3 linked regions of the Homo sapiens genome follow. The protein of the gene in region 1 interacts with the protein of each later gene in a biochemical or structural test. Each region holds a gene or a part of one and is shown on either strand. Other genes may lie near its edges.

The links.
Region 2: the proteins of MAGOH (region 1) and NXF1 form a complex in vitro, tested with the Homo sapiens proteins (one study listed by BioGRID).
Region 3: the proteins of MAGOH (region 1) and IPO13 form a complex in vitro, tested with the Homo sapiens proteins (2 studies listed by BioGRID and IntAct).

Annotation. Positions count from the first base shown.
Region 1 is NC_000001.11:53,232,019-53,235,518, forward strand, and holds part of MAGOH (protein mago nashi homolog), read right to left. Parts: intron 1,635-3,500; coding exon 1,524-1,634; intron 1-1,523. UniProt on the Homo sapiens protein: Required for pre-mRNA splicing as component of the spliceosome. Plays a redundant role with MAGOHB as core component of the exon junction complex (EJC) and in the nonsense-mediated decay (NMD) pathway.
Region 2 is NC_000011.10:62,795,441-62,798,940, forward strand, and holds part of NXF1 (nuclear RNA export factor 1), read right to left. Parts: exon of another isoform or gene 3,136-3,500; coding exon 3,099-3,135; intron 1,947-3,098; coding exon 1,878-1,946; intron 1,799-1,877; coding exon 1,743-1,798; intron 1,128-1,742; coding exon 1,020-1,127; intron 906-1,019; coding exon 847-905; intron 742-846; coding exon 626-741; intron 504-625; coding exon 461-503; intron 1-460.
Region 3 is NC_000001.11:43,953,450-43,956,949, reverse strand, and holds part of IPO13 (importin-13), read right to left. Parts: intron 3,488-3,500; exon of another isoform or gene 3,467-3,487; intron 631-3,466; coding exon 490-630; intron 391-489; coding exon 249-390; intron 141-248; coding exon 1-140. UniProt on the Homo sapiens protein: Functions in nuclear protein import as nuclear transport receptor. Serves as receptor for nuclear localization signals (NLS) in cargo substrates.

The DNA of each region.
Region 1 (3,500 bases):
ACAGTATCCAATGGCTTATTGCTGGTACAAAGGAATATGCCCTTCCCTCTTTACAGAATTGTTGTGATGGTAGAACGAGTTAATAGAAATAAAAATTTTATAAGTGGTAAAGCAAAATACATATATATGATATTACTGAGCTCCCTTGAACATAAATTAAAGTTAACTTTAGTAAGTACTGAGGGTGGATTTTTAAAAAAAACTCTTCAAGGGTTGGTCCATCATTTTGAGATTATTAGGAATGAGTTTATATGGGTTTTCATATTAATTTAACAAATACATTATTATTGAGCTTTTACTATACATGGGTACTATTTTAGTCACTAGAGATACAGCAGTGGAAAACACTGAAAAGCAAGTAAGACAATTTTAGACAATAGCAAGTGCTACAAAGACAACACATATTGTGATAAAACTGAAAGCAAAAAGAAAAAAAAACACAAAAAGACAACACAACAGATCTTTTTCTTAATGATGGGAAGCGACTTCTTAGATTGGATGGACAGGCAAGACATCACTGAGGAAGTGACTTTTGAAGACCTCAATAATAGAGACAGTCTTGTATAAAGTTAAAGGAAGAATATTTTAGGCGGAATGTGGCAAGTGCAAAGGCCCTGAAGTAAGAACCACCTAGGTATGTCTGAGGAACAGAAATGAAGCTAGTAAGGTTTGAACACCATGACAGATTGGAAGCCCGGTAAAAGATAAGGTGGGAGTTTGAATTTTAAGTACAGTGGGAAGCCATTGGAGTTTAAATCAGTGGAATACATAAGCAAATTTACGTTTTTAAAGATCAGACCAGTAGGATGCGGCGGCTTACGCCTGTAACCACAGCACTTTGGGAGGGTAAGGCAGGCGGATCACCTGAGGTCAGGAGTTTGAGACTAGCCTGGCCAACATGGTGAAACGCCATCTCTACTACAAATACAAAAATTAGCTGGGCATGGTGGAGGACGCCTGTAATCCCAGCTATTCGGGAGGCTGAGGCAGGAGAATCGCTTGAACCCAGGAGGCAGAGGTTACAGTGAGCTGAGATTATGCCACTGCACTCCAGCCTGGGCGACAGAGCGAGACTCCAACTCAAAAAAAAAATAATAAATAAATCACACTGGCTTTCAGGATGGAAAAATGGATGGTATGGAACAAGAGGAAAAACAAGGAAATCTATTAGAAGTCTGGATTAGGATGGTAGCAGTCAAGAGTGAAAATACCTTTTCTGTTAATTCAGTTCAATATGACAGTGGCTTTTATTTTTTAGTTACCAAAATGGTGCTCAGAATGAATATATACATTAATGTATATAAATATACATGAATTTAAATACATACACTGAATTATTTGTATGATTTTCCTTTCATTAGATTGTTGAAATAATTATGTTCTATTTCTCTTTGTATCTCCACAATGCTTTGTCCATAGTAGTTAGTAAGTGAGATAGGCAACAAAAGCTTTAAGTGGAGGAGGGAGTGTGGGGGGTCTTATTTGTAAGATTTCTGCACTACAGGATAATCAATAAAACACACCTGCCGGCCCACTCGGTCAGGAGGAGGCCACAATGCATCATCCTCTTTGGTAATTTCACTGTCGTCAATTATTCTCTTCAGTTCCTCCATCACGCTTTTATGTACATAAGCCTGAACGCAAGTTAAAAAACAAAATGTATGTTGTATCCTTAAGCAGTGCTTTGACTCAGATAGTGATGGAAGATAAAAATAACTGTTCCTGCAGACTTATTTCTGGCATCTCCTTAAGTGGGAAGACATTCATGCTCAACCTCGGCATGATGCAGGTGAGGGACACGGTCAGAAGTATCCAGTAACTGCACCTCAGTCCCCTATCTAGCTGTTACTACCTCCTGGTACATCCTGTTCACATGGCCCTTCTGCCTGCCCACATACCCAACTCACAACGAAACCCAAAACAGGTCTGTGAGTGCCCCCTGCCATGGTTTGAATGTTTTTGTCTCCTCCAAAAAAATCATACTGAAATTAATCCCCAAAGCAACAGTGTTAAGAGATAGGGCCTTTAGGAGGTGATCAGGCCTTGAGGGCAGAGGCCCCAGGGATAGATTAGTGCTTTAGGAGAGAGCTTAAGGGAACTAGCTGGCCCCTTTCTTGTTCTTTCACCATATGAGGACACAGCATTCATTCCTTCTGGAGGATGCAAAAACAAGGCACAGTTGTGGAAGCAGAGACTGGGCCCTCACTAGACACTGAACTTGCCAGCGCCTTGATCTTGGACTTTCCAGCCTCCAAAATTGTGAGAAATATATTTTTACTGCTTACAAATTACCCAGTCTCAGGCATTTTGTTGCAGCAAAAAAGAGACTGCGACACCCACATGCCCTGGTTATTCTTTTTTTTTTTTTTTTTTGAAACGGAGCCTTGCTCTGTCGCCCAGGCTGGAGTGCAGTGGTGCGATCTCGGCTCATTGCGAACTCTGCCTCCTGGGTTCATGCCATTCTCCTGCCTCAGCCTCCTAAGTAGCTGGGACTACAGGCACCCGCCACCATGCCTGGCTAATTTTTTTGTATTTTCAGTACAGACAGGGCTTCACCGTATTAGCCAGGATGGTCTCGATCTCCTGACCTCGTGATCCGCCCGCCTCGGCCTCCCAAAGTGCTGGGATTACAGGTGTGAGTCACCGCGCCCGGCCAGTTATTCTTAACTAGGTAATACACTCCTGAGGAGCAAAATGTATTTTAAAAGATATGCCTGTGTAAAAAAATAGTGAGGATATTGACATGTGTGAATAAGCATAAAATCAATAGCTAAAATAACAATATGAAAATATATGCTAAGACATTTTCAAAGGTGGCAAAGTGGTTAAAAGGAAAGAGTAGCTTTGATGAAGCCTTAATGATGTAGTAGAAATCACAGAACGGAGAATACAAACTTTACTGGGGCAGGATTGGGAATTCCTGCTGTATCTCTTACTAGCAGGGGTAACTCAGAACAAGCCTCATAATTAATACCTGGGCCTTTATTTTCTTATTTGTAAGGGGGCTATAATACCCTCCCCCATCACATGGGCTTACAATCAGGGTTAAATAAGATGCCACGCCTGACATCTAACATGCATTCAATGATGTCAACTGCTTTCCCATGCTCCCTTTCCCACTCAGATGTAAATTAAATAGCTCTTCATTGTGTACCATGTACACAGGGAATATAGAGCACTTTAAATAGAACATATTTAATTTTATGACAGCACTTGGGAGTGGGAGGTAGCTTTTATTATTCCTGTTTTTACAGGTGAAGAAACAGAGATTTATCAAGTTCAGCCAGGAACTTGCCCAAGGTCACATGGGGTAGTAAGCAGCAGACTCAGGGTTCAAACCAAGGTATGTCAAAGGTTACCAGTAATTGATTCCACAATGTAAAATAAAAAAATCCCAACTAAAAGATGATTTGGGAAATAATCCAGAAGCTGTCTACAGACATGTGTCTCTCTCCCTGTTCTTTATCTTTCAATACTACTAGAAACAATAAAAACAATGC
Region 2 (3,500 bases), on another chromosome or scaffold:
ACTCCAGCCTGGTGATAGAGTGTGACTCCATCTCAAAAAAAAGTAATAACTACTAATCCACTGATAGCATCTGTATGCCAGGCCCCAGGCCAAGCACTTTGTAAGTCACTTCAGTTTACTTCCTATAGCACCACTATGAGACGGCTATTACTAACCCCATCTTACAAATAAAGAATCTGTCTTAGAGGTAATGTTACTTGTCCACAGCCCCGCACAACCAAAACTAGGATGGAAACTAAGAACTGCCTGACTCCAAAGTCCTCCTAATCCCCAGGCTTTTCCCACATCCAGACAGGACAGGTGGAGAGGTAGGCCAAGCCAAGACGGCTTGGGGGCAGAATGGGAGAAGGAGCTCAAAAAGAAAATGGGAGAGAAAGTAGCTGGGAAGCTAAGAGTGCTGAGGAAAATTCCAGCTGGGGGTGGGACCACGCTACAAACTCGGGACTCTAAAGATTCTTACCTTCCTTGAAGACTCCATTGACAGAAAAACACAGCAATGTGCTCTGAAAGAGAAGCAGCATCAGGTACAATGTACACTTCTCAGAGCCTGAGTGCCCCCCCTTGCCTATTAAATGCCACCCCCACCCCAATTCTAGGCTTCTGTCAGGCGCAAGCAGGAGCTTACTGTCTGGGCGCTTATGTCTACCACGAAGGAATTGACGTCGTGCTGGGTTTTGGGCAACTCATTGAGGAAGGCAACAACGTTGAGACGCGTGTGCTTCAGCAGCCGGAACCGCAAGGCTGTGGGTAGAGGAGAAAGCTCAGTGGTGCTGCCACACACTCCTGAGTTCTGACTGATTCCTTCCCATGCCCTTTTCCCATATTTTGTTCGTATCACACACTTACTAGGGTCTTTAAGCTTCTTCACATTTCTGCTATCCTTGAAATACTCGGCTAAGCTGCTTCTGGGGGAATAAAAGGAATGGACGTGGTGTTCAGAGCAGTGCTGCCAGCAGGTGTGCCCTGTATCTGCTGGGAAACCCAGTGGTCCCGGGCAGATTCTGGGATGTGATACTAACCGGGCAGGGTTCTGAGGAATGAAAGGAATGCTCAGGGAACAGCAGGCCCCATCATGGTAGGCATCCAGGAGCCCTTGTCGGTCTCCAGAGTCGTAAATTGCATAGTACCTATGGGAAAAACAAAAAAGAAAGTATGGGCTCTGTGGTCTACAGCCATACAAGGACCCAGTAGCTCCCAAGAGTGAGTTGTGGCCGGGCATGGAAGCTCATGCCTGTAATCCCAGCACTTTGGGAGGCTGAGATGGGTGAATAGCTTGAGCCCAGGAGTTCAAGACCAGCCTGGGCAACATGGCGAAACCCTGTCTCTACTAAAAATACAAAAAAAATGGCTAGGTGCGGTGGCTCACGCCTCTAATCCCAACACTTTGGGAGGAAGAGGCAGGTGGATCATGAGGTCAGGAGTTGGAGACCAGCCTGGCCAACATAGTGAAATCCCATCTGTACGAAAAATACAAAAATTAGCCAGGTGCAGTGGCACACACCTGTAGTCCCAGCTACTGGGGAGGCTGAGGCAGGAGAATCACTTGAACCCTGGGAGGCAGAGGTTGCAGTGAGCCAAGATCACACCATTGCACTCCAGCCTGGGTGACACAGTGAGACACTGTCCAAAAAAAAAAAAAAAAACAAAACAAAAAACAAAACAAAAAGATTGATGTGTGCCTGGGTCTGCCCACCATTCCCCCTCAACCTCGGGGTGGGGAGGGGGGACCCTGGGATACTTACTGTTGCAGGAAGTGCAAGACCAGACTCTTCAAGTTTTCTGTTCCAAAATAGCTTCCCTGAAATCAAACAGGTATTAGGAACATGGAAGCAGTATTCTCTCCACACACAAGTTCTTACTCTGTCCATGCTTCCTACCTTGCAGGGCGGTAACGTCGTGGGGGCTTCAACATCAAAGGCAATTGGTGGGGGTAGCTCATGGCCATCCTGTGGAAAGGAAGTAAAAGTTGACAGTGTAGACTGGGCCCAGTGGCTCACACCTGTGATCCCAGAACTTTGGGAGGCCGAGGCAGGCAGATGGCTTGAGCTCAGGAGTTTGAGACCAGCCTGGCTGGACAACGTGGCAAAACCCATCTCTACCAAAAAAAATACAAAAATTAGCTGGGCATGGTGGTGCGTGCCTGGAGTCCTAGCTACTTGGGAGGCTGAAGTGGGAGGATCACTTGAGCCTGGCAGGCGAAGGTTGCAGTAAGCTACGATTGTGCCACTGCACTCCAGCCTGGATGACAGAGCCAGACCCTGTCTCAAAAAACAAAACAAACAAAAAAGAAAGTTGACAGTTTAAACCAGAGAGAAAAAGGCTGGGTGCATAAGTAGACTGAAGAACTAAGAGAGAAGGGTCAGAAGTCAAGTGTAAACGCATCATGAAAAGTATCCAGGGATCCAGGCTGGGCGCAGTGGCTCACACCTGTAATCCCAGCACACTGGGAGGCCAAGGTGGATGGATTAGTTGAGGTCAGGAGTTCAAGACCATCCTGGCCAACAAGATGAAACCCCCATCTCTACTAAAAATACACAAAGAAATTAGCCGGGCATTGTGGCACATGCCTGTAATCCCAGCTACTCAGGAGGCTGAGGCAGGAGAATCACTTGAACCCAGGAGGCAAACGGTGCAGTGAGTCAAGATTGCACCACTGCACTCTGGGTAACAGAGCAAGACTCCATCCAAAAAAAAAAAAAAAAAGGGCCTGGTGCGAGTGGCTCACGTCTGTAATCCCAGCACTTTGGGAGGCCGAGGTAGGTGGATCACCTGAGGTCAGGAATTCAAGGCCAGCCTGGCGAACATGGTGAAACCCTGTCTCTACTAAAAATACAAAAATTAGCCAGGTGTGGTAGCACATGCCTGTAATCCCAGCTACTTGGGCTCAGGAGGCTGAGGCAGGAGAATCGCTTGAACCTGGGAGGCAGAGGTTGCGGTGAGCTGAAATCATGCTGTTGCACTCCAGCCTGGGCGACGAGTGAAACTCCGTCTCAAATAAAAAAAAAAAAAAGAAAAAGAAAAAGAAAAAGAAACCTATCCAGGAATCCTTGTGAGTGAGAGATGCTGTGCTTGTTAGAATGAAAAAATTATGGACTTACCAGGCGTAGTAACTTGGGAAATCGTTCGCGAATGGCGCTGTCAAGAACGGGACAGAAGTGAGTGATGCTTCAGAGCCACCGTGCCTCCTGGGCTGCTCTAGGAGCAAATATACCAAACCCGAGGGACAGCCCATCCCATCCTGCTCATCCCTCCACTCCCTCCCAGCCTGTGCTCAGGGAAAAATGGCCCCCACTCCCCACCTGACCCGGGGCACCCAGACATGGACTGCCTTGAAGGCTGTCTCTTTTCTCTCTGCCTGACCCTGAGTGTCAAGGAGCAGTACTCCAAGCCCAGGCTTTAAGCCCAGGACCTCTTTCCCCTCCCTGCCCCCCTTACCTTCCACCTACTCACCTGTGCAGCCCCGGGAGGAGGGAATGGGGTGGGAGCCCAGGGGCTCCGCT
Region 3 (3,500 bases), 9.3 Mb from region 1:
TCTGAGGACCAGAATCCATATTCCTCATCAGAAGGGAACTGGGCCTTGTGCAGAAGCACATCCACCAGCTGGAAGTAGACTGGCCGGTACACCTGCTGGTATACAGCCTGCTTCTCTGCCTCAAAGGATAGAATATCATCCTGAGAGAGCCAGGGAAGAGAATTAGCCACCTCACCAGCAGTCATAGAAGCCCATGATCCACCTTCTTCCACCACAGCCCAGTCCTACTGGAGGTCACACAGACACACCTGCAGTGTGTACCAGAAGGTGAGGGTTAGGGAGCTGGTGGTCTCATTGACAGGATAGTGGCCAGGGATGCCTGTGCAGAACATAATCATGTTGACGAGTGCCAGGAAACTCTGCCAGTGCTCTACTTGGTCCAGCAAGGCCCTGGGGAGAGAGTCAGGTCATTCTACCTTTCCAGGGACTTCCAGAACCCCATTTCTTAGAGGGCCCTACTATCCCACCCCAAGCTGCTCCACCCTTTACCGGGAGTGGTTCTCGCCCAGGGCCACAGCGATGCGACAGATGCCATGGGAGGTCTCCATGTCCCCATTCTGCACTGCCTGCCGCAGTTGTTCCTGCAGACCCAGCACCAGCGGGATGAGTTTCAGGAGTGTGTTCACGTACCTAGAGGCATGAGGTGAGAAAATCCATCAGAGCTCTCTGCTCAACCCCACACTGGCTTTAAGAGAAAGGCATAATCTCCTTGTCTTCCATCAAAGCTCCCCTTCCCTTATCAAATCCTAAGCAAAAAAAGGGTCAGGGTCTACATGGCAGATTTGATGTTCCCAATGTTGGGAAGAACCTTAGATCAGGGACCCCCAGAAGAACTCTGAGAAGGACGTATGAGAAGGTCAGCATTATGGGTTGAATTGTGTTCTCCAGTTGGACTGAGAGCTGATTCCGGAATGGGTTAAGATTTTTTTTTTTTTTTTTTTTTTGAGATGGGGTTTTGCTGTGTTACCCAGGCTGGTCTCGAACTCCTGAGCTCAAGAGACTCAGCCTCCTGCTCAGCCTCCAGAGTAGCTGGGATTACAGGTGGAGCCACCACATCCAGCTAGGTTACAACTTTTGGGGAGATTGAGATGAAGTGAATATATTTTGCATGTGGGGATAACATGAAGTTTGGGGCACCAGAGGGCAGACTGTCATGGGTCAAATTAAGTCCCCACAAAAAGATACATTTTTTGATAAATCTTAATCCCCAGTACCTCAAAATGTGATCTTATTTGGAAATAAGATAATTGCAGATGAGGTTATACTGGAGTAGGATGGACCTGAACTCCAATATGACTGGTGTCCTTATAAGAAGATATCTATGTGAAGACAGAGACATACAGGGAGAATGCCACGTGAGGATGAAAGTAGAGAGTGGAGTGATCCAGCTGGAAGCCAGGGAACACTGAAGACCGCCAGCAAACCACAGAGCTAGGAAGAGGCAAGGACGGAGTCTCCTACAGGTTTCAGAGGGAGCACAGCCTTGCCAACACCTTGATTTCAGACTTCTATCCTTCACAATTGTGAGACAGTTAATTTCTGTTTGGCTTTAAAGCCACCTAGTTTGTGGTACTATGTTATGGTAGCCCTAGGAAACTAATACAGTCTGTCAGGGGTGATTGAACAAGAGTGGGATACAGAAGAGTAAACACAGGCTCATAAGCCCTGATTTAAAAAAAAAAAAAAGACTTTGGAAGGCAGCAACAGCTCATGAGAGCATCAATCCCTGCCATCCGCTCCACCCTCTACCACCAAATCCCAACTCTTGAGGAGTGTGGTGGCAGCAGGGAGGAAGAGAAGTAGACAATGAACTCAGAGAGAGCTAAGAGGCAAAACAGACAGGACTTGATGACTGACTGGATATGAGGAAGGAGAAGAATAAAGACACCTCTCAGGTCACTGGCTAAACAACTAAGTAGACGGTGGAGCTATTTACTGAGACCTGTGGGGTGAGTAGCGGGGAACAGTAACACCTTTAATGGGAGGTGGAAGGTGATAAGCTCAGTCTTAGACAAGTTGATTCAGAGACACCTGATAGGTTATGCAGGCAGAAGCATCTAGAAAGAGTTGGATATAAAAGCCTGAAGCCCAGCATAGAGGTTAGAGCAAAAGCCATAGATTTGAGAGTCATCAGCTAACAGCTGGTAATTGAAGTTATGGGAATAGATGAGAATTGCCCAAGGAGAAAGTGTTGAATGAGAAAAAAATAAGAGGGTCCAGATCACAGCCCTGAAACACAATGATCTCTAAAGGAGAAGGACAGACAGCCCAGTATACAAAGGGGACTGAGAGAAGCCTGGCTCAGCCCACTGGATCCCTCTCCAGCACCTTGGTCTGTGGAGATGAGACTAAGCAGAGGAAGCCACACTCTAATAGCGGGGATCAGATGCTTGGGACCCCTCTGTTGTCAATCATAGTGTCACCATAGCAATCTATGTTAGGGAGTTGGGGACTGAGGATCCCAGAGGGAGTTCTATCTGGACTTGCCCCAAGCAGGTTGCTAGGCAGTAGCCTCATATCCTTGGTGGGAGGATGAGAAGGACAAAAAGAGGCAACCAGCCTAGGGACATCGGCCTCCTTCTCCACATCCCCATTCTGGTAGGAAAAGTCACCCATGCCAGGATATCCCCAGCCCAGAGACAGCCCCAGGGGGTGCTGCCTGGAGACAGCCGGGATAGCTTCAGTCTCCTGACCCTGACACGGGCTGCACCACCAGACAATGGGCATTTTCAGGCCAGACTCTGGCACAAAGAGAAGGGGCAGGGCCAAGGCTATGGCCCACAAGCTCCTCAGCAGCTGAGATGGGTGCAGGAGGTAGCGCTCTACTCCCATAGCTCCCCACTGTATTCTAAGACTCCTTCCTCCACCTGCCAAAGTTCATGCAGATGGCAGGGTACTCGGCAAATGTTCTTCATTTGTCTCATCTGAGCCTCAAAATAGGACAAATCAAGGATAATACAGCCTCAAAGAGCTCAGAGTATCATATCACTCAAGGTCATACAACAACTTAGAAGCAGAATCCAGGTTGAAACTGCCCCTTAAACTGCTACAGGTCTGCTTTTCTTTCAGGGCCCAACCAGAATTTCCCCAAAGGATTTATGTACGTCTCAGCCCATATCTCCAGTCCTAACTGATGGGAGCCCCCAAGAGCCTGCCTAATTCACTTTCCCTCCATCCCCAACTCCCAAGGACAAGCTTTTCCAGCATTAAAAACATAGTTCAGGAAAAAAAAATACATTTCAAAGGAGAGAGCCAGGAAGCAGCAGCAGCTGTGGAGGGGCAGGAAAAGGGTGACTTGAGTGCAAGCTCAGCCAAGGGGAGGGCCAATGTCAGGACACCTGGGGAAGGCGTGCCTGGATGACCCAGGAGTCAAAGTCACTGAAGGTGACTTTCACAAGCCAAAGCTGGGAAATTAGACTGGGGAGAGCAAGGGCCAGGCTCGGATTCTGGGCTGGATGCAGCTCACCCATGGGAAGAAGTTCTTGCATAAATTTCCTACC